3 linked regions of the Homo sapiens genome follow. Changing the gene in region 2 together with the main gene of any one other region gives a genetic interaction. Each region holds a gene or a part of one and is shown on either strand. Other genes may lie near its edges.

What was found.
Region 1: of ARHGEF12 (region 2) and TEC, changing one enhances a phenotype caused by changing the other (phenotypic enhancement), as found in Homo sapiens cells (one study listed by BioGRID).
Region 3: of ARHGEF12 (region 2) and GNA12, changing one enhances a phenotype caused by changing the other (phenotypic enhancement), as found in Homo sapiens cells (one study listed by BioGRID).

What each region holds. Positions count from the first base shown.
Region 1 is NC_000004.12:48,266,814-48,274,706, forward strand, and holds the start of TEC (tyrosine-protein kinase Tec), read right to left. Parts: upstream 3,026-7,893; 5' UTR 2,939-3,025; intron 1-2,938.
Region 2 is NC_000011.10:120,486,400-120,490,453, forward strand, and holds the end of ARHGEF12 (rho guanine nucleotide exchange factor 12), read left to right. Parts: 3' UTR 1-3,538; downstream 3,539-4,054. UniProt on the Homo sapiens protein: May play a role in the regulation of RhoA GTPase by guanine nucleotide-binding alpha-12 (GNA12) and alpha-13 (GNA13). Acts as guanine nucleotide exchange factor (GEF) for RhoA GTPase and may act as GTPase-activating protein (GAP) for GNA12 and GNA13.
Region 3 is NC_000007.14:2,841,284-2,848,491, forward strand, and holds the start of GNA12 (guanine nucleotide-binding protein subunit alpha-12), read right to left. Parts: upstream 3,026-7,208; 5' UTR 2,879-3,025; coding exon 2,570-2,878; intron 1-2,569. UniProt on the Homo sapiens protein: Guanine nucleotide-binding proteins (G proteins) are involved as modulators or transducers in various transmembrane signaling systems. Activates effector molecule RhoA by binding and activating RhoGEFs (ARHGEF12/LARG).

The DNA of each region.
Region 1 (7,893 bases), on a different chromosome or scaffold from region 2:
GGCAACAAGAGCAAAACTCTGTCTCAAAAAAAAAAAAAACGAAAAAAAAGTTATGCTTGGCTTAGCTGTGAATTTTGATCTAACCATTATTCAATATTCTGTTTTAACGACTGCAAGAATGGGAAAATAGGGAAGCTGTACTTGCGTTGGGGGTTGGAGGGAAAAAGAGAGCCAACTCATCATCTTCCACAGTGGGAAGTCAACAGATAATGCTTAAAATTGAAAAATCAAGAAGTATCAACTATAAGCCACAAATGGCAAAGAATTACAAGTGGTTGTTTCTGGAAAGGGAGAAATGTAACTTGGATAAAAGTTTAAAACTATAAACCATAACAAAACAAACTTTGGCTTCTGTGCCCACACATTTTTACATTTGTTTGCTTTTTCTTTGTTTCCCTAATAACAATCTGTTTTGAAAAAGCCCATCCTTGTTTCTCTAAACAAAAGAGTATGTAATTCTCTACATCTATACTACAGTAGCTGCGGTCATCTGAGCTCTGAGCAGTCAAACATGGTGGGGAAATTAATTGTTACAATCCAATCCCAGAAGAATTGGTTGAGCTGGGGTAGTGACAATAAGGCAAGCCCAAGCACAGGCGTGTTTGGAGGTGGAGGCAACTACTAGGCCCCTTCCTTCTGGGTTGTTTCTTATTTTTCCACAAACCTTTTATAATAGCATAACCACATCGTACAGGATAATTTTACAATTGCCAGTGACCATGAGCCAATTTCACTTTTTTCCAACAGACTTGAATGCCCAATTTATGATCGTAATTAGTCCAACCAAGGCAGCTGGCCCCCAAGACTGTTGATCTGGGTTTGACTTCAGTAACTCCACTTTGCCTGCTGTAGACTGGACAAGAAGGGAGCATAATAAAGGCTCTGAAGCAGCAGACATCCAAGGAGCATCCACGGGGAACCAGCACCATGCTGAAGATCAACACTCATGCTGACTCTGCAGACCAAGTACCCCTGCCCTGAACAACATGGTGATTTGTCTAGGGGTAAGAATCTGGGAGGGGTGGGGTGGAAGCTAAGGAGCTGGAACAGCTGGGGCAGGGAGGAGAGGCACCAACCTGGTCAACCTGGAGGAACCTGTAGGCAGAGGTGTGGCTGGAGGCCCAAGGCCCTGTCTCCCAGCACTCTGGATACCCGGAGAAAGGCAGAGAGGCCAGTAATTCTTCCCCAAGCGTAAAAGTAGGCCAGACACTGCTCACAACCCTTCCAACCTCCCTATCAAGGGTCAACTTAAGGAAGCAAAGGTTACCATTATCTCAGCTTTATTTTCCACGGTTTGGTAAAACATAGCTGCTGCCCTTGAGTAACTAGCTGCTGAGAAAACATGATTATCTTGATAAAGAATAAAGTAGGTTGAAAATGCTAGAGCATACATTAATATTCTATATCCTTTCCTAGTTGGGAAGATGTGAAAATTCTAGTTGGACCTATGTGGGGCAAAGGTATTGCCAACTAGAGTAAAGCACTGACTGCATGAGTTTACACTTGGCCTATACAGTTCCACAGACCAGAATGTACACACCCTTGTGAGAAGAGTCAAGATCATTAACATAAACACACCACAGTAAGCATCTGCGTTGGCAAGAGTGTAATATATGGATCAGATTAACTGGAGTATGGGGAAAGTGTAAGTCTTCCGTAAACATTGAAAATGTAACTAAACTAAAAAATACTTTCAAATACATAATGTGAAAGTTACCCATACTTCTATTTTCCCCTTAGAAATAAATCTTAATATCCCTTACTCCAGGTGATTATTGCAGAGTAAGCAGCTACCAGTGTCACGACCTAAACTGTTAAATCCCAAACTTTATTTGGGAGATCCGCTGGTTTGTTTCTTCCCAGCTCTTTAGCAGAGAATAATCTAGAAGTGAGTAAATTCTCAGAATTTCCCAAGAGGAAAATGAGCATTCACTGGAAAAATACAAGGAATACGCGCAAAACTTATAACTATTTTGGATAATCTTCAAACCCACTTAGCCACCAGCCATCCTGTTGTTCCAAGTTAACATTAAGATCAATCTTTCGAATCAAATATTCCAGTTTCCAAAGAATAGCAATGGATGAGATTGTTTCCAAACCTGGTACACACCACCATGTTACACGTCCACGGGAAAAATAAAATAAAATAAAATCCACAAGAAATTTAGGATTAAAGAAAATTAGGAAAGTGTACACTCCCAGGTCAAGGCCCTAGTTTTTCCAAGAAGTACATACATTGGCCGGGCACCTGTTTTCAATATTCAAACACAACTTCCCGGGGCGAGGTGGGCGGGGTATTGGGGGGGTGGGGAAGAGAACGTGAACTTCACTGGGTGAGTCACGTGCAACTGCGGAACATCTTGGCCGATACTGCCAAATTTTTTTTTTAATACTTTAAGTTCTAGGATACATGTGCACAACGTGCAGGTTTGTTACATATGTATACATGTGCCATGTTGGTGTGCTGCACCCATTAACTTGTCATTTACATTAGGTATATCTATCTCGACACTGCCAAATTTCAATCAAGATCGCGCCGCCGCCCAACCCGAAAGGAGGCATCAGCCCTGCTCGCCGCTGGGACGTGACCCCAACGCTGAACTTGCCGCAGGGCGGCCTCAGGCCTGGAACTTCAAGAAAAAGGGGCGGGTGTTCCTTAGGAGAGGTCAGTGCGGGAGTTGGAGAAGTGGAGAATCTACTGCCGGCAGGAAGGCGAGGCTGCGCCACTGCGCGCACCTGTCCCTCCTTCCCGGACCGAAGAGGGGACCCAGAGACGGCGCACCCGCGCTCACTGCGGCACGGAGGGGAGAAAATCCTTCCCCGTTCCTCGAGGGGCGTGTGGAAGCCGCCTCTTGCCGCGCTCATCCCCCTCCCCACCCGTCCTCGCCCGGAGTATCGCACTCCCGGGGCCGCCCCAGCCCGCCCGCGGCGCCCTTACCTGGCTGAAGCGCGGCTGCTGGGCGGACCTGGGGAGACTGCGAGGTGCAGTCTGCGCCGCGGAGTCCGGAGCCTAGCGCCCCAGAGTCCAGAGCAAAGCGCCCCGCCCCGCCCTCTGATCTCCCCGTCCCGCCCCCAATCACCCCGCCCCGCCCCGATTGCTGGCCCCGTGGACGCCCTACCCCGCCTCTGATCCTGCAGGCCCGCCCAGTCCTCGATCGCCCCGCCCCGGTCGCTTGGGCCCTGGGTGGCAGGTTTGCGCAGCCCTGCGGCGATTTCAAGGCAAGTGACCGGAATGGGTCGGAAGCGCGTCCCGGTGAGTTTCAGGGAGCGTCCCTTAGGTTTCCGGGGGCGGCGTTGAACCTCCCTAGCCCCAGTCTTCCCATCCCAGGAGACCCGCCCCTAGTGGCTCGAACGCCCCTAGCCAGGAGAGCCCCGAGTAGTGCCACTTGTGGAAGACTACGTGCCTGTCGGAATTAGGAACCGCACCTCCCCTTCCGCTAAGCGGTGGGAGGCCAGGCGGGTGACGCGGAGCAGTGGAGCCATGCAGCCTGTTTTACCAAAAGAGTAAGTGGTTTTCCTGTGAAACCCGAGGGAGCAGTGCATATCTGATACACTTAGAGGGTCACGTGCACTATTAATGTGTTAACATTAAACTCACTGAAGAGTAGAAAACACATGTAAGACTTAACTGTGTGCCAGGCACTGTTCTAGGTACTTCACATGTACTAAAAGTTCTCTGAAGCGTATATTATCAGAATCCCCCTTTTCACATACGGTGCAAGTGAGGCAGAGAGAAGCTAAATAACTTGCCTAATGTCACCCAACTAGTAAATTGAGAAGCTGGGTTGAGAAGCTGGGCTTCAAATCCAGGTCTTCCTCCTCTGGAGTCTCCACTGTTATTCACGGCTATCCTGAATCAGCAAAATCTGTGTGCATCCTATACCAGGAACTGTTCCCATGCCTGGGGAAGATGAGGCAAGGACTCTGCCATTAGGAAACTTTTATTCTACTGTAGGAGAAAGACAATAAGTGATTGTCGACTAAAATTTAAAAATCAAGCTGTTAAAGAATGAAAGTTAGTTTTATTCAGAAGTCTTACTGAGGACTAGAGATGGAGGCCTACAGCCCTGGAGGAGTCTTTTAGAGAGATTCAAGCAGATCCCTCCAACACAGAACTTCCCTTCTCAATTTAGAAACAGTTGGTGAAGATTCAGTATGTGTAAAAGCACATCACAGTTTGGGCTTAAGAGTACATCTGTTTATAGATTACAGAAGCATAATCACTAACCTCATCAGACTTTATCTTAGGTGCAGTAAAAGGCAAGGGCTCAGGCAAGAGACGTGGGGGATCCTGTGTTCTATCTCGTTTTGTCTTCAAAGCATCTTTCCGCCAGCTGCAGGTGGTCACAGAGTCAGGGGCTGTGTGAAATTATGCTGACAAGCAGAAATGAGCAAGCATGGCTTCTTAACGTTTGTTACTTGTCTCACATGATCAACAGGCAAGCAAAAAATTAAACCACTTCGTAAGTGAGGTGTCTTGACTAAAATAAAGCAGGGTGATGGAATTGAGAGTGAAAGGGAGAGGGAGGCTACTTTAGATATGATGTTACTGGAGGCTTCTCTGGGGTAACAGTGGAGCTGAGACCTGAATGATAGGACAGACGGCCAACCCAAGGCTGAAGCTAAGGGAATGGCAAGTGCTTTGATACTTATCACACCTCATGCTTGCTTGGGACTTAAAAGTAGTGCCTTCCTATATCATTTCTCCTTTGATCACTGTAATAACCCTGAGAAGTCTAACAAGATTCCATTTAATACAGTGGTCCCCAACCTTTTTGGCACCAGGGACTGGTTTTATGGAAGATAATTTTTCCATGGACAGGTGTCAGGAAGAGATGGTTTGAGGATGAAACTGTTCCACCTCAGATCATCAGGCATTAGATTCTCGTAACGCGTACACCACCTAGATCCCTCGAATGCACAGTTCACACTAGGGTTTGCACTCCTGAGAGAATCTAAGGCCAAGGCTGATCTGACAGGAGGCGGAGCTCAGCCGTAATGCAGGCAATGGGGAGTGGCTGTAAATACAGATGAAGCTTTGCTCCCTTGCCCACCGCTCAACCGCTTACCTCCTGCTATGCGGCCAGGTTCCTAACAGACCTCAGACCGGTACTGGTCCACAGCCTGCGGGTTGGGGAACCCTGATTTAACAGGGAAAACAATAACAGCAACAACAACTGAGGGTCAGAGAGGTTTCAATGACTTTCCAAAAGTCAGACAACTATCTAGGAAAAGGGGAGATGGGAAGAGGGCACAGATTTGGACCAAGGCCTTCTGATTACAAATCCTCTCTCCAGTGAGGACTTTGAGTATAATGACTAGTACTTTGAATGAATCTAGTAAAATTTCTTTTTTATGATCTACTCTCTCCTCCCTACCCGAGTCTCTCCTGCCTCTTGTCCCATTCAGGTACTTGTTTTGGCTAGTTAACGTAATTTCCCCTAGCACAGATGTACTTTGAGGGGACAGGACCATAAACCATCTGAAACTCTATGCAAAAAAACTGTGTTGGGGGGCAGGAAAGAGAGTTATAGATATATAATTATAGTAATACAGTTAATTTTCTCCCAAGAAAAATGCTTATGTACGTATATTTTTAAGTGAGAGGACTTAGAACTTTTATCATATTGACTGATCCCAAAAAGGTAAGAGCTACTGCCTTAAGGAATTAACTGATATTATGATGGTTAGAAGAACCAGTTTCCAATTCGCCTTGCCTGTTCTTGGTAGGTGATGGTAGCTCATATTCTTGACAATGGTAATGAGGATCTCAATGTTTATGAAGTTTGAAAAGGCAGAAAACCCAGACCCTTACATAATTTCTTCATAAAGTTTAAATTAAAAGAGAGAAAAGTGTCTGTATTGTCCCTACTAACTCTCAGAAAAGCCAAAGAGAACAGATCTGTAAATAAAACACCTAGATCCAACATAATTCTTAATAGTTGGGGTAATTTTCATAAAGTTATAGTTTTCTAAATAAGACATTTGTTACACTATCAATCATACAGTTTAAGTAGGCAATTGCCACAGGTATACCATCCATAGATCACATAATAGAGAACAATGGCAATTTTTTTCAGCAAGGTGTTGAGAAAGAGACAGAGAGACAGACAAAAAAAAGAGGCCATTAGGGAACTTCAACTACATTAAGGAAAAGGTGTAAAAACTGAACTCAGAATGTGGTGGGATTAATAAAAAAGATTTAGTCTTTCTTTAATTTTTATTTTTTAGGTGAAAACAGAATACTACATTTGGGCCTGTATAATTCAAACTTTTACATTCGTCCCTAGTCAAAAGAAGGAATCTAGTAGTTGACTTAAAAAGATTTCTCCCCCTGCCTCCAAAAAGAAGACTCAAACAATATTAGTAAAACCATCTTTATTTTAAGAAAATCAAGATACAGAGAAAAAGGTATTAATATAAACTTCTTGGGAGACAAGACTCTCCCTTCTTACAAGATATCGCTATGGCTTCCATAAAGTTTATTTGTTTAGATGATCAGTATCAGGTTGACATAATTTCAGTTCCTTGAGAGACGAAAATGCCTCTTTTTAACTTACATGTAGATTCCACATGGTACAGAAGAAGACATGCAGAATCAACCTGGAAGGTTTGCAAAAATATATGTGTGTATATATTTGTATTTATAGCTTCTTGCCTTTTTTTTTTTTTTCTGAGACAGAGTCTTGTTCTGTTGCCCAGGCTGGAGTGCAGTGGCACAATCTCGGCTAACTGAAACCTCTGCCTCCTGGGTTCAAGCAATTCTCCTGCCTCAGCCTCCTGAGTAGCTGGGATTACAGGTGCCTGCCACCACGCCTGGCTAATTTTTGTATTTTTAGTAGAGATGGGGTTTTACCATGTTGACCAGGCTGGTCTTGAACTCCTGACCTTGTGATCCGCCCGCCTCAGCCTCCCAAAGTGCTGAGATTACAGGCATGAGCCAGCATGCCCGGCCAGCTTCTTGCATTCTTTTGTGCAAGTCACTGGTTTTATTTTGTAACCATCTTCCTACTGAAAAGGAAACTGGCCCATCATAGATAATTAATACATTTGTTGATGAATAAATGATGATGACAATGACGATAATGCAGACCTTATCAGTCTTCCATGGAGAGTCTGTTCCTACATGAAGATGACTTCATTGTGATCCTATGATATGTCTGCTTCTCCTTCCATCATGTGCTGAAAGTAGTTGCTTCTTTAGAACTATTGCATAGAAGGAAGGAGTTTCAAATATTGGACACAGAATCAATAATCATATTTCTGGGAAGAGATGCTAAATAAATAATTCAAAAGAAATAAAAAGCATCATATGCAAAGTATATTTATAAGATCATTATAATAATAAAATAAATGTCCAATAATAAGGAAATGTTTAAGTAAAATATATTAACAGTATGGAATGTCAAGCTGTCATTTAAAATTACCTATGTTGGTCAGGCATGGTGGCTCACACCTATAATCCCAGCACTTTGGGAGGCTGAGGCGGGTGGATCTTTTGAGCTCTGGAGTTCAAGACCAGCCTGGACAACATGGCGAAACTCCATCTCTACTAAAAATACAAATATTAGCCAGGCTTGGTGGTGCTCACCTGCAGTCCCAGCTATTCGGGAGGCTGAGGTAGGAGGATTGCTTGAGCCCAGGAGGGCAGGGTTGCAGTGAGCTGAGATCGTGCCACTGCACTCCAACCTGGGCAACAGAGCAAGAACCTGTCTCTAAATAAGTTAATTAATTAATTAAATAATAAAATAAGATTACCTATGTTAATGAAAAAGAGATAGGAAATAAAACTTATGAACAAGATTATATTTTTAAAAGTAGAACACAATGCTTTGAGTACCTGTAATTGCAACTAAATACAAATTATGTGGAGGAAAACTGAAAAGTAAGAAT
Region 2 (4,054 bases):
AGCACATACACTGGACACTGCAGGCAAGGTGTTGGTAACTGCCTGCTCTAGGATGAATAGTAGCGTTAGCAGCACCCTACAGAGGGTAAGTTTCAGAATTGTAATTTGAGAACTCCTTCAATTATATTGACTTTCTTTGGTTTTCCTTGTGCATTAGGTATATATTTTTTGAAGTATTTTTGCCAACTAAAATGAAGTCTGTAAATTCTGTTAATAAACAAGGAGTTCATCCGTTGCTCACATCTTTCATTGGTGCCCTCTGAACTCTGTGGGTTGCTAGGATGTAATTTTAATGCTTCCCTGCAGTCCAAAGATGATTTTTTCACCACAAATGGTAAGGGATGCCCACCTACTTTTATAAACACCACTGCAACTTAACAAGTTTATTTATCTATGTCCAGATTTCTGTTTCTGTCCTAAATTGATCTGTGTTTTTAGGTGGATCAACTTGGATCTTTAGACCTCATCTATAAATTGAAATTATATTTTTAGTCATAAGCCAAGTACAATCTAACTCAGAATGGGATTAAAAATTTTAGAAGCAGAAGCTAATATATAAATGAAGTTTGGGATTTGGAACTTTCTGTATCTCTTAGGAGGAACAAGTAAAAACCAAATGGTTACATTGTGCTGCTAGAAATAATGTCATTCTCAATTAAAAGGGTTACACCTGTAGCCACTTGACACTAACACCATCGAGGGCAATTAATCAGGAGAAAAGTAAATATAAAAACTTTGCTCTTAACGTCACACACTACAGGGTAATTATGTAATTCTCTAGCACTCAATTAAGAAGCTTGTAGGTTAGCAAAATTTCAGTTTCTCTAGTTCAGCCAGTGTCTTGTCCTTAGTAATTATTTGCTTTCCCTGCAGTTCAATTTCTCCTTGGAACTCTAACAGGACTAACTGGAAAAATACTTTGACCATAGCTCTAGTACTTCCAAATAAATTCATATCTAGATTTTCAAACAAAGCCCCAAGATGAAGTCTAATTCTGAAAATATCTCACAATTTTTGAATGTTCTTTTTATCTTACCGACCTAACTTCTCTTTTCCCTCCCAACTTGGCCTCCCACACGTTCCATTTCATTTTGGCCATTATAGTCACATCCGTTTGACTTTGGTTGTGACATCTTCCTTTCAGGATGATGGAATTAGATGCAGTCTGTCTTTGAGTGAGACTGGTCACCATCAGAGGAGTTTTTTCTAAGTGACGTGACTAGAAGTTGAAATCTACTTCCCTGCTAAAGGGCACAGGGGTGGTGTACAAAGAAAGCTACCTTCCCAGAGCAAGCAGGCTGCATTTTAGCTATGGAAGTGACCTGCTGTGACACTGTGCTCTCTTCTGTGGGCTTAATGGTTCCTTTGCTATGAAGTGGCAAATTACATGTAGAGTGTCTCCTTCCTTTTCAGAGAACAGTTAATCAAGGCAAATCAGCAAGCCCCCAAAGTGCTGTAATTTAACATCATGATTACCACCTTCGAAGCTATATATTTTGCATACTTTAAAATCACCTAACTTGGACTGCTTGAATTACATTGGCTTTTAGAACCGAAATTGTAACTATGTATTGTATTTCATGGGAGGTATATTTTATGAGCTTTTTGGCTTTCTTTTTTCCCACAGCAACTGCCAATGAAGGATGAATCCCCTTTTTAAAAAGTTGTTGTTGTTGTTGTTTATTTGATTTTGAGTTAGGAGGGATAATAGAGAAGTCCATTTAAAAATTATTTTTAGAAGCTAAAGAAAGTAATTATGCTTCCTGTGAATTGTCTTTTACTGGCATCTTTGTTTTCCTCTTTGATGTTAGTAAATTTGGTGTAATACGTGGGGCTTCCATATTTCAAAGTGGAAGCTTTCTTCTCTGAAGTCGATATATGGTTTTGAATTACTAGAGCTTTGGTCAGTATTTCCTTCCCTATATGTCACAGAGGGCACCACTGAGAACTGCGTGCATAGGACCTCAAAATACAAAATTAGCAGGGCCTCACAGTCAGCTTCCTCATGGCTAGTTTTTCCCCCTTATATTACAATTTTTGTTTTATAAGTCATTTTTTTCCTGATATTTCCACCACTTTTCAGAGTCATCTACAAAATTTTTCTTTCCTCAAGAAAAGAGTTCCTTTTGCCTTATTCCTTATGCCTTCCCCACTGGTATTGAGGGTTTTGATAATAAATTGGTAGGAAAAAAAAGTACCTCCTAGAAGGAAGCCTTCCCCACCATTTCCAGGTGCCAACTGCTAAGCAGATATATTCCAAAAATGGTAACTGTCATGTGCACACTGTTGGTTATTTTTAATAAGCCTCTTCCTACTAGAACATTTTATTTTCCTTGTTCACCATACAATCATGTACTCTTTAACAGAAATTGCTTTTAAAAAATATCTGGAACTATCTTTAAAAAAACTTTATTAATAATCATGTATTTTTACTGATCACATTTTGAAATGCCTAAAAGACTTTATTGTTCTAATTATCCAGATGTACCTTTGTAAAATAGCTCTTTTATGAATTAGCTGATAAGGCTGTATGTTTCTGGAACAAAATATTGGTCATCTAAAAACTTTCTGTTTTCTGGGGTCTGGGAAAATAGAAAATAAGATTTCAAATATTAAATAAGCTTAAAGGAACCAAGCATGTGACTTTTTATTTGTATTCTGGTTGATTTGTCTTGTCCAAGTTATATTAGAAAAGTTGAGGAGTCGAGGAGCCTGTAATTAATTTTCCTGTCAGTGACTGTCAGACATCTTCCTGCTTATTAGAGCATCCCTAGCAACAAGGCTAAACCTTCATGACAGTGCTGGCAGGTGGGCTTGCCCTAGCATGTGGGGCAGGTTTGTTGTTTTTTTAATAGCTTTATTGAGATATTCACATATCATATAATTCATCCATTTAAAGTGTATAATCAGATGGGTTTTGGTATATTATTGATTTTTAATTGTGGTGAAATATATATATAACAAAATTTGCTATTGTAACTATTTTTAAGTATAAAGTTCAGTGAGGTAGGCCAGCTTTTATGACGCACCTGAAGATAACTTTGGTTTTAATCCTACCCTAAATGAAGCATATGCCTCTATTTTTCCTGTCCCCAGTGCTGGGCTTCTTCACATACCAACATTTCTGTGCTTTTACCAACAGCATTTTAGCTCAGAAGGCTCGCTTACTTTGGGCATTTGCTGTATTTTGGTTTTGAAATACTTGTAATTTGACTTATTCTTGGGATAATATTTTAGTTTTCAGTCATTCAAGGGCACATTTGGCTGACGGAGCTAATAAGCGTAATAAAATGCTTAGTAGTTTATACCATCTTTTAGTTAAACATTTTAAAGATTAAGACTATTCAAATGTACTTTGCGGAAATTAACCTGTTTGTATGCCTGGCTTTGTTTACAAACATATATCTATATCTATATATATAGATACAGATACAGATACATATCTGGTGGAACAAAGAAATACCTGTACCATTCCCACTTGCTCTTTGATAGCCACCTCCTAGGAATGGAGACAATAAAACTCTGTATTTGCATGTGAGCAGTTACTTCTATTTTTTACTGCCCTCTTTCAAGCTAAATGACTGGTTTACCAAAGGTTTATTACCAACTTCAAATATAAGAGGATCTATCCTGATTAAAAAGTTGCTTTTTAATTGAACTCGTTATCTCCTTGATGTTTTATGACAAATGTCATAAAGCATGAGAGATAAGTAGCTGGATGTAGGTGTTTCCCATTTTCTCTATAATGTCAAGGATAATTCTTGTTACTAATTGGAAACACTTCCTCAACTTTAGCTGTCAGGGAATATGTTTGTTTTGCCACTTATTTTTACTAGTGAGACATCATCATTCCCTTAGCATCAGCAGAGGCCTTGGTTTGAGATCATTTAAGGTATGTAGAGCTCTCTTTCTAGATTTTCCCCCTCAATTGATTAGAGTGCTTTTGGACCGACCTGTAATTTAAGGCATTTTATTTTAAGGGATCTTTTTCTTTGTACGTGTGATCAGAGGGTTGTGGCTGCCTGAACACATGCTAATCAAAAACACTAATTAG
Region 3 (7,208 bases), on a different chromosome or scaffold from region 2:
AACACGCACTTCATACAGGGATTTAGATTTCAGATTCTATGTTTCCAAATACTTTCTCCATCTACTGAGTTGGAAGAAACTAGAGACAGTCAAACTGCTATACTTTTATGCCTGCCTGGTTCTGAGGTCTGGGCAAGCAGCAACAATAAAATCAGGATCTTTAACAGAGAAGTTACAGGGCAGGCCCTGAGACAGCCAAATGCACTTGAACACAGACGCTCCCAGTGAGCTAAGCTGGGCACCTAGTCTTCAAAGTTCACGAAGTATCTGACCAGAGCTCTGACGCACCGAGAGGCTTGGAAAGAGGTAAAATGAAAAAGGGTGTTTTATCAAATTATTTTCTTCCCTTCACAATCCTAAAGGAGCTCTATTAAAATGAAACATTTCCATGAGAAGTATGTCAAGTGCGAATACTGGCCTGGAAGTCTGGAGGCCAGGATTCCAGCACAGAGACCCCAGGAAGGAGTCACTTCATCTCTAGGGCTGAGGCAGGAGTCCTTATGGGTAAGTGATACAAATGTACCCGATAGGTTTCTACGGGGCTTTGCTAAATTTAAAATCTCCCAGGCACCATAAAACCTAGTCTCCAGGCAGGTTTTCTGGCATGGCAAACTTCTCTCCGACTCTGCTTTGAGATGATTGTCCTCGCCTCTAACTTGGTTTCCCCAAAATGGGCTGGGGAAAAAGTGGTGAGGGGACAAGGAAAGGGTAGAGAGGTAGGGAGGGAGGGAGAAAGGAAGGGAGGAAGGAAGAAAAGAAAAAAGGAAGGAAGGTAGAAAGAAAGGAAGAAAAGGAAGGCGGGAAGGAAAGGAAGGAAAGGAAGGAAGGGAAGGGAGGAAGAAAAGAAAGGAAGGAAAGAAAAGAAGGAAAGGAAGGAAGGAAAAAGGGAGGGAGGACAAAGGACGCTATCTAGGTGTAAGCAAGGCTGCACTGTTCCCTCATCATCAGTTTCCTCCAGATCTTCCTTGAGGCCCTTTAACACAGGCTCACGGTACTGAGAGACTGGAACCCCGACTTTATCAACTCTATGGTTCTTTTATTTTTTTTCACTGCCACTCAGGCTGGAGTGCAGTGGCCCAAACATGGCTCACTGCAGCCTCAACCTCCCAGGCTCAACCAATTCTCCTACCTCAGCCGCTCAAGCAACTGGGACTACAGGTGCATTCCACCATGCCCAACTAATGTGTTCATTTTTGTGGCACTGAGGTCTTGCTGTGTTGCCCAGGTTGGTCTCAAACTTCTGGCCTCAAGTGATCCTCCTGCCTCAGCTTCCCAAAGTGCAGGGATTACAGGCACGAGCCATCACACCTGGCCGACTTCTACAGCTTCTTTCACAAATATGGCGAAGAGAAAAAAGGAAGCAAGAGACAGGAGAATCTGGAGATTCATTGCAATGCATGTCGAGTCACACAAAACAATTATGCCACAATGGAGGAATTCTGAACACTGGATATCTGGTGATAATGAGCTATTACTAATGTTTAGGTTTGCTAATGGTACTGCGGTTGTGTTTTTACATGGAGGCCTCATCTTTTAGCCACTCATATACATCCTAAAACGTTTCCTAATCCAACTACACAAAGTTGGATTTGCTTGGAGACCATGGGGAGGGCACAGGTGAATAGGATTGGCACAGAATTGATGACTGCTTTAGTTGGGCTGTAGGTACTTTACAGTCAATCTACTATTTTCTCTACTTTTGTATACATTTGAAGTTTTCGTATTAGAAAGTGTGGCTCACACCTGTAATCTCAGCACTTTGGGAGGCCCAGGTGGGAGGATGGCTTGAGACCAGCCTGGGCAAGAGAGTGAGAGCCTTTCTAAAAAAACAGAAAAGTAAAAAGAGACTCATGGCTGGTTCCCGTCCAGTCTCCACTGCTCTTCTTCTAAGCTCAGCCGGAGGGCACGGCCGGTTGGGCTCCTATCCCACAAATCTTCCAGTGGGAAATGGACAGATACCATTCTGCTAGGGCACATCCAGGAGGGGGCTAAGTGCCAAGCCCCCACTCCCCATCCCCAGAAGCTGGCCCGAGTTCCCACTCCCACGGTCCCCAGGCACCCTAGAGAGGGCAGAGGCAGACCGGGCGCCATGACTCATGCCTATAATCCCAGCACTTGAGGGAGACCAAGGCAGGAGGATCACTTGAGGCCAGGAGACTGAGACCAGCCTGGGCAACACAGCAAGACCCCATCTCTACAAAAAAAAACTTAAAAATTAGCTGGGCTGGTGGTGCGCGCCTGTAATCCCACTACTTCGGGAGGCTAAGGAGGGAGTAGGGCTTGAGCCTGGGAGGTCGAGGCTGCAGTGAGCTGTGAGGGCGCCACTGCACTCAAGCCTGGGAAACACAGCGAGACCCCATCTCAAAAAGGGCGAGACGGGGTGGGGCAGAGACGACGCCAGCAGGCCTCGGGGAATGGGTCGGGGGGGAGTGGGGTGCAGGCGGGGCTGGATCCAGCATCCTCGCCCCAGGGGTCCCCGCCCGCGGCGGCGGACCACGGAGGGGCCCGGGGCGGGGGTTAGCGCCCCGGCCCACCTGGGTGCAGGTGCTGGGCGGGGGGCGCGCGTCACCTTGAGGATGTTGTCGAAGATGGTGTCGCGGAACTCCAGCAGCGCCTTCTGGTCGAACTCGCGGCCGTGGATGATGCGCATCTGCTTGAGGAACGTGGACTTGCCGCTCTCGCCCGCGCCCAGCAGCAGGATCTTCACCAGGCGCCGGACCGCGCGCCGCTCGCGGGCCAGCAGCGCGTCGATGTCGCGGCTACGCCTCCGGGCCTCGCGCTCCGCGTCGCGCGCGCCGCTGCCCGCCCTGCGCTCGCGGGCCCCGCCGGCCTCGGCCGGCAGCAGGCAGCGGCTGAGGGTCCGCACCACCCCGGACATGGCCCCTCAGGCCGCGGCCGCGCCCCGCCGGCGCCCGGGGGCCATGGACGCTCCCGCCGGCGAGGGCGAGCCCGGGCCGAGGCACCGCCCCACGCCCCGCCGCTCGCCTCAGGCCGCGTCCGCCGCCGCCGCTGCAGTCGCTCCGAGGCCCGCACTCGTCGCCCGGCCGCCACTCGGGCCCGGCGGAGGGGCGGGCGGCGCCGCGTGAGGCCCGGCGGATTGGGCCGGCTGCCGTCCATCTGGCCGTGAGAGCCCTTCGATTGGCTCATCTCGCCAAGGGAGGCGGGCATCCCTTCCGGCCTCGGGGCGGGGTCGACGCCGAAAGAGGCGGGATCTTTGAGGTGAAGGCGCTTCTCATTGGACGCCCAGGCTGAGGTTCTTTCTTTCAGAATGAAAGGGAGGCGGGGTCGCCCGGGAGGCGGAGCGATCGTCCGCCATGGCCAATTATAATTGCTCTGAGTGGACATCAGACGTGCCCAACGGGCTTTGGATTGGGTGTTCGGGGGACGGGGCGTGACGAGAAGTGCCAGGTGTACAGAAAGATTCTCCCTTGGTTCCCAGATTGGGTCCGCCTGTGAGACCAGGACCTCGCGGAGTAGCCCAAAGGCTGGGAAATGCTGATAAGAGGTTCAGCTGCTCGTCGTATTCCCTCCGATGATCTTGTTTCTACACTATTTTCCTTCCAGAAACACTGGAGGGGGATGGGCCATAAATTTCAAACACATGCACCCTTTGAGAGTGGCATGGGCTTCTAGGAGGCTTTGCGAAAAGCTGACTAATCACTAAAATCACCAGAAGCTCCCCCAAAAGTCTTATGTCTCACAGTGATTGAGAGAGTGGGGTCTGGAGTTGCTGGGCCTGAGTTGGAATCTCCAGTCGACCAGTTACTAGGTGTACTAGTTGCATAACTTTTTTTAGCAGCTTTCCCCACCCCCCCCAACAAACCCTTTTGGATGTTCTTAGCTTCCGTTTCCTCATCTGTAAAACGGGGGTGTCATTGACGACATTGGTTATGGCTTGACATTGCTCAAATCGTCATGAAGATATAAACTGAGAACATGAACTTACCAAACACTTAGCACGTGAGCTAGCCCAAAATCAGCTCTTGATAGAGATCAGCTGATTACAGATTCTTGACTCTCCCAGATCTACTGAATCAGAACCTCCTAGAAGGAGCTCAGGTATCCCTTAAGATTAAAGGCGTGAGCCGCCGCGCCTGGCCCAGTGTGTAGTCTTTTATCTCTCGCCACCCCCCACCTTTTACCCTGAGTCCCCAAAGTCCAATCTCTGTGCGGTGTCTGTTAACTCTGCTGATTATTTCTTTTGCAGTGCCGAAGCTTTTTAGTTTAATTAAGTCCCATCTATTTATCTTTGTTTTTGTTGCATTTGCTTTTGGGTTCTTGGTCACAAAGTCTTTGCCTAAGCCAACGTCTAGAAGGATGTTTCCGATGTTATCTTCTAGAATGTTTATGGTTTCAGGTTGTAGATTTAAGTCTTTGATCTATCCTGAGTTGATTTTTGTATAACGTGAGAGACGAGGATCCAGTTTTATTCTTCTACATGTGGCTTGCCAATTATCTCAGCACCATTTGCTGAATAGGCTGTCCTTTCCCCACTTTGTTTTCATTTGCTTTGTTGAAGATCAGTTGGCTGTAAGTATTTGGCTTCATTTCTGGGTTCTCTATTATGTTCCATTGGTCTCTGTGCCTATTTTTATATTAGTACCATGCTGTTTTTGTGACGATAGCCTTATAGTATAGTTTGAAGTCAGGTAAAGTGATGCCTCCAGATTTGTTCTTTTTGCTTAGTCACAGATCTAAACTCCCCAGAAGGCTGGGCACGGTGACTCACAACTACAGTCCCAGCAGTTTGAGATGCTGAGGTGGGAGGATCACTTGAGCCCAGGAGGTCAAGGGTGCAGTGACCTATGATCGTGCCACTGTACTCCAGCCTGGACAACGGAGCAAGACCCTGTTTCAGAAACAAAACAAAACAAAAACCAACTCCCTGACAACCTTGAATGCACATAATATGTATTATTTGTCACTTGCTACAAATACTACAAATCATGCCATGAATTTGTATCACTTATGAGTCAAGATTTTGTAATCCTTGGAAAATGATTAGAAAGTCTTGCTTGTTTGTGGAAATGACCTCCCATAGGAGGCCAAATATGGCTGGGCACGGTGGCTCATGCCTGTAATCCCAGCACTTTGGGAGGCCAAGGCAGGCAGATTATCTAAGGTCAGGAGTTCAGGACCAGCCTGGCCAACATGGCGAAACCCTGTCGCTACTAAAAAATACAAAACTTGGTTGGGTGTGGTGGCGGGCGCCTGTAATCCCAGCTACTGGGGAGGCTGAGATAGGAGAATTGATTGAACCCGGGAGGCGGAGGTTGCAGTGAGCCGAGATCGCACCATTGCACTCCAGCCTGGGCAACAAGAGCAAAACTCTGCCTCAAAAAAACAAAAAAAAAAAAACAAAAACGGGAAGGCCAAATACTAGGTCTGGCATGGTAGCTCACACCATGTAATCCCAGCACTTTGTGAGGCTGTAATCCCAGCACTTTGTGAGGCTGAGGTGGGCAGATCACTTGAGGCCAGGAGTTTGAGACCAGCCTGGCCAACATGGTGAAACCTCCATCTCTATTAGAAATACCAAAATGAGCCAGGCATGGTGGTGAACGCCTGTAATTCCAGTTACTTAGGAGGCTGAGGCATGAGAATTGCTTGATCCCAGGAGGCTGAAGTGGCAGTGAGCTGCGATCACACCACTGCACTCCAGCCTGGGCAACAGAGCAGGACTCTGTCTCAAAAAGAAAAAAAAAAAAGAAAAAAAAAAAAAAGGCCAAACACTAGTATTGAAATAGAAGGGAGGAGAAATTGGAGAATCCAAAGAAAGCAATGTTTCTGAGACAGAAATAGGGAATTTTGAATCACTAAAGAGTGGACTAGAATTCAGAACAGGTTTTTGGCTCATCCAGTTCACACAGGGTTTATTCCTCATTCAGTTTTAAGAAATTAAGAAAAACTGATTCACAAAACAGTTTCAGCAAGTGCTCCAGACAGCACTCACAACTAACTTTAAATCCTTATAAATAAGCCAGGTATGGTGGGAGGCTGAGGTGGGAGGGTTGCTTGAGTCCAGGAGTTTGAGGCTGCAGTGAGCTATGATTGTACCACTGCACACCAGCCTGAACAACAGAACAAGACTCTGTCTCTATTTTTTTTAAATCTTTATAGCTTTATGCCTTGTGTTTATGTAATCATTAAACATTTTAAAGAGTTATTTACTTTTCTTTTTTTTTTTTTTTTTTTTTTTTTTTGTGATGCAGCTCTGTTGCCCAGGTTGGAGTGCAGTGGTGCAATCTCGGCTCACTACAACTTCTGCCTCCCAGGTCCAAGCTATTCTCCTGCCTCAGCTTCCTGAGTAGCTGGGATTACACGCACACACCACCATGCTTGGCCAATTTTTGTATTTTAAAAGAGGTGGGGTTTTATCACATTGGCCAGGCTGGTCTCAAACTCCTGACCTCAAGTGATCCACCTGCCTCGCCCTCCCAAAGTGCTGGGATTACAGGTGTGAGCCACCGGGCCTGGCCAAGAGTTACTTACATTTTTAAATGACACATTATGGCATTTTATGGGAGAAATTCTTCTGCTGTCGGCAATATTCGATTTGAGGATTTGACCAGGTCTCTGGACATCTCCACACGTGTCAATGGGCTAAGGTGCTTTAAATAAACAAGGTTATCTGCATAGTCCACAATAATCTCTTAATTATCCCTTCTGTTTGTACGGCATGCTAAAAGTTTTGAAGTACTTACAGGTGCATTATCTCATTTGCCCTCTCTACACTGCTGGGGAAAGGTGACTGCCTTACCAGTATCTGAATCCAGGTGGCTAAGCTCTCCTGGCAAGGGAAGTATGGTTAGTACACTGCAAACCCCGAACTGGAAGTCTGACACACAGCATTCTCTGTGTATAATAGGATGGAGAAAAACATGAGAACTTTGAAGTTTGGCTCCATCACCTACCAGCTGTGTGACCTTCAACAAGTCATACAGTATCTCTGAGACGTAGTTTCCTTGTCTGTAAAATCAGGATGAAAATAAAGCTGTACTACACCTTAAATAAGTTAATACAGATAAGGTCCTAGAACTGGACCTTAGCACATAACAGGCCCTCAGTAAATGGTCATATTGTTATTATTATCATCGTGGAGCTTTGGGAATCGGGTATTGCAAATTTAGAATAATAGTGGCAGGCTGGGGAAGAATCTATAAAGACAATACCTTGTATGGTATGATATTAAAAATTAAAACCTGGGA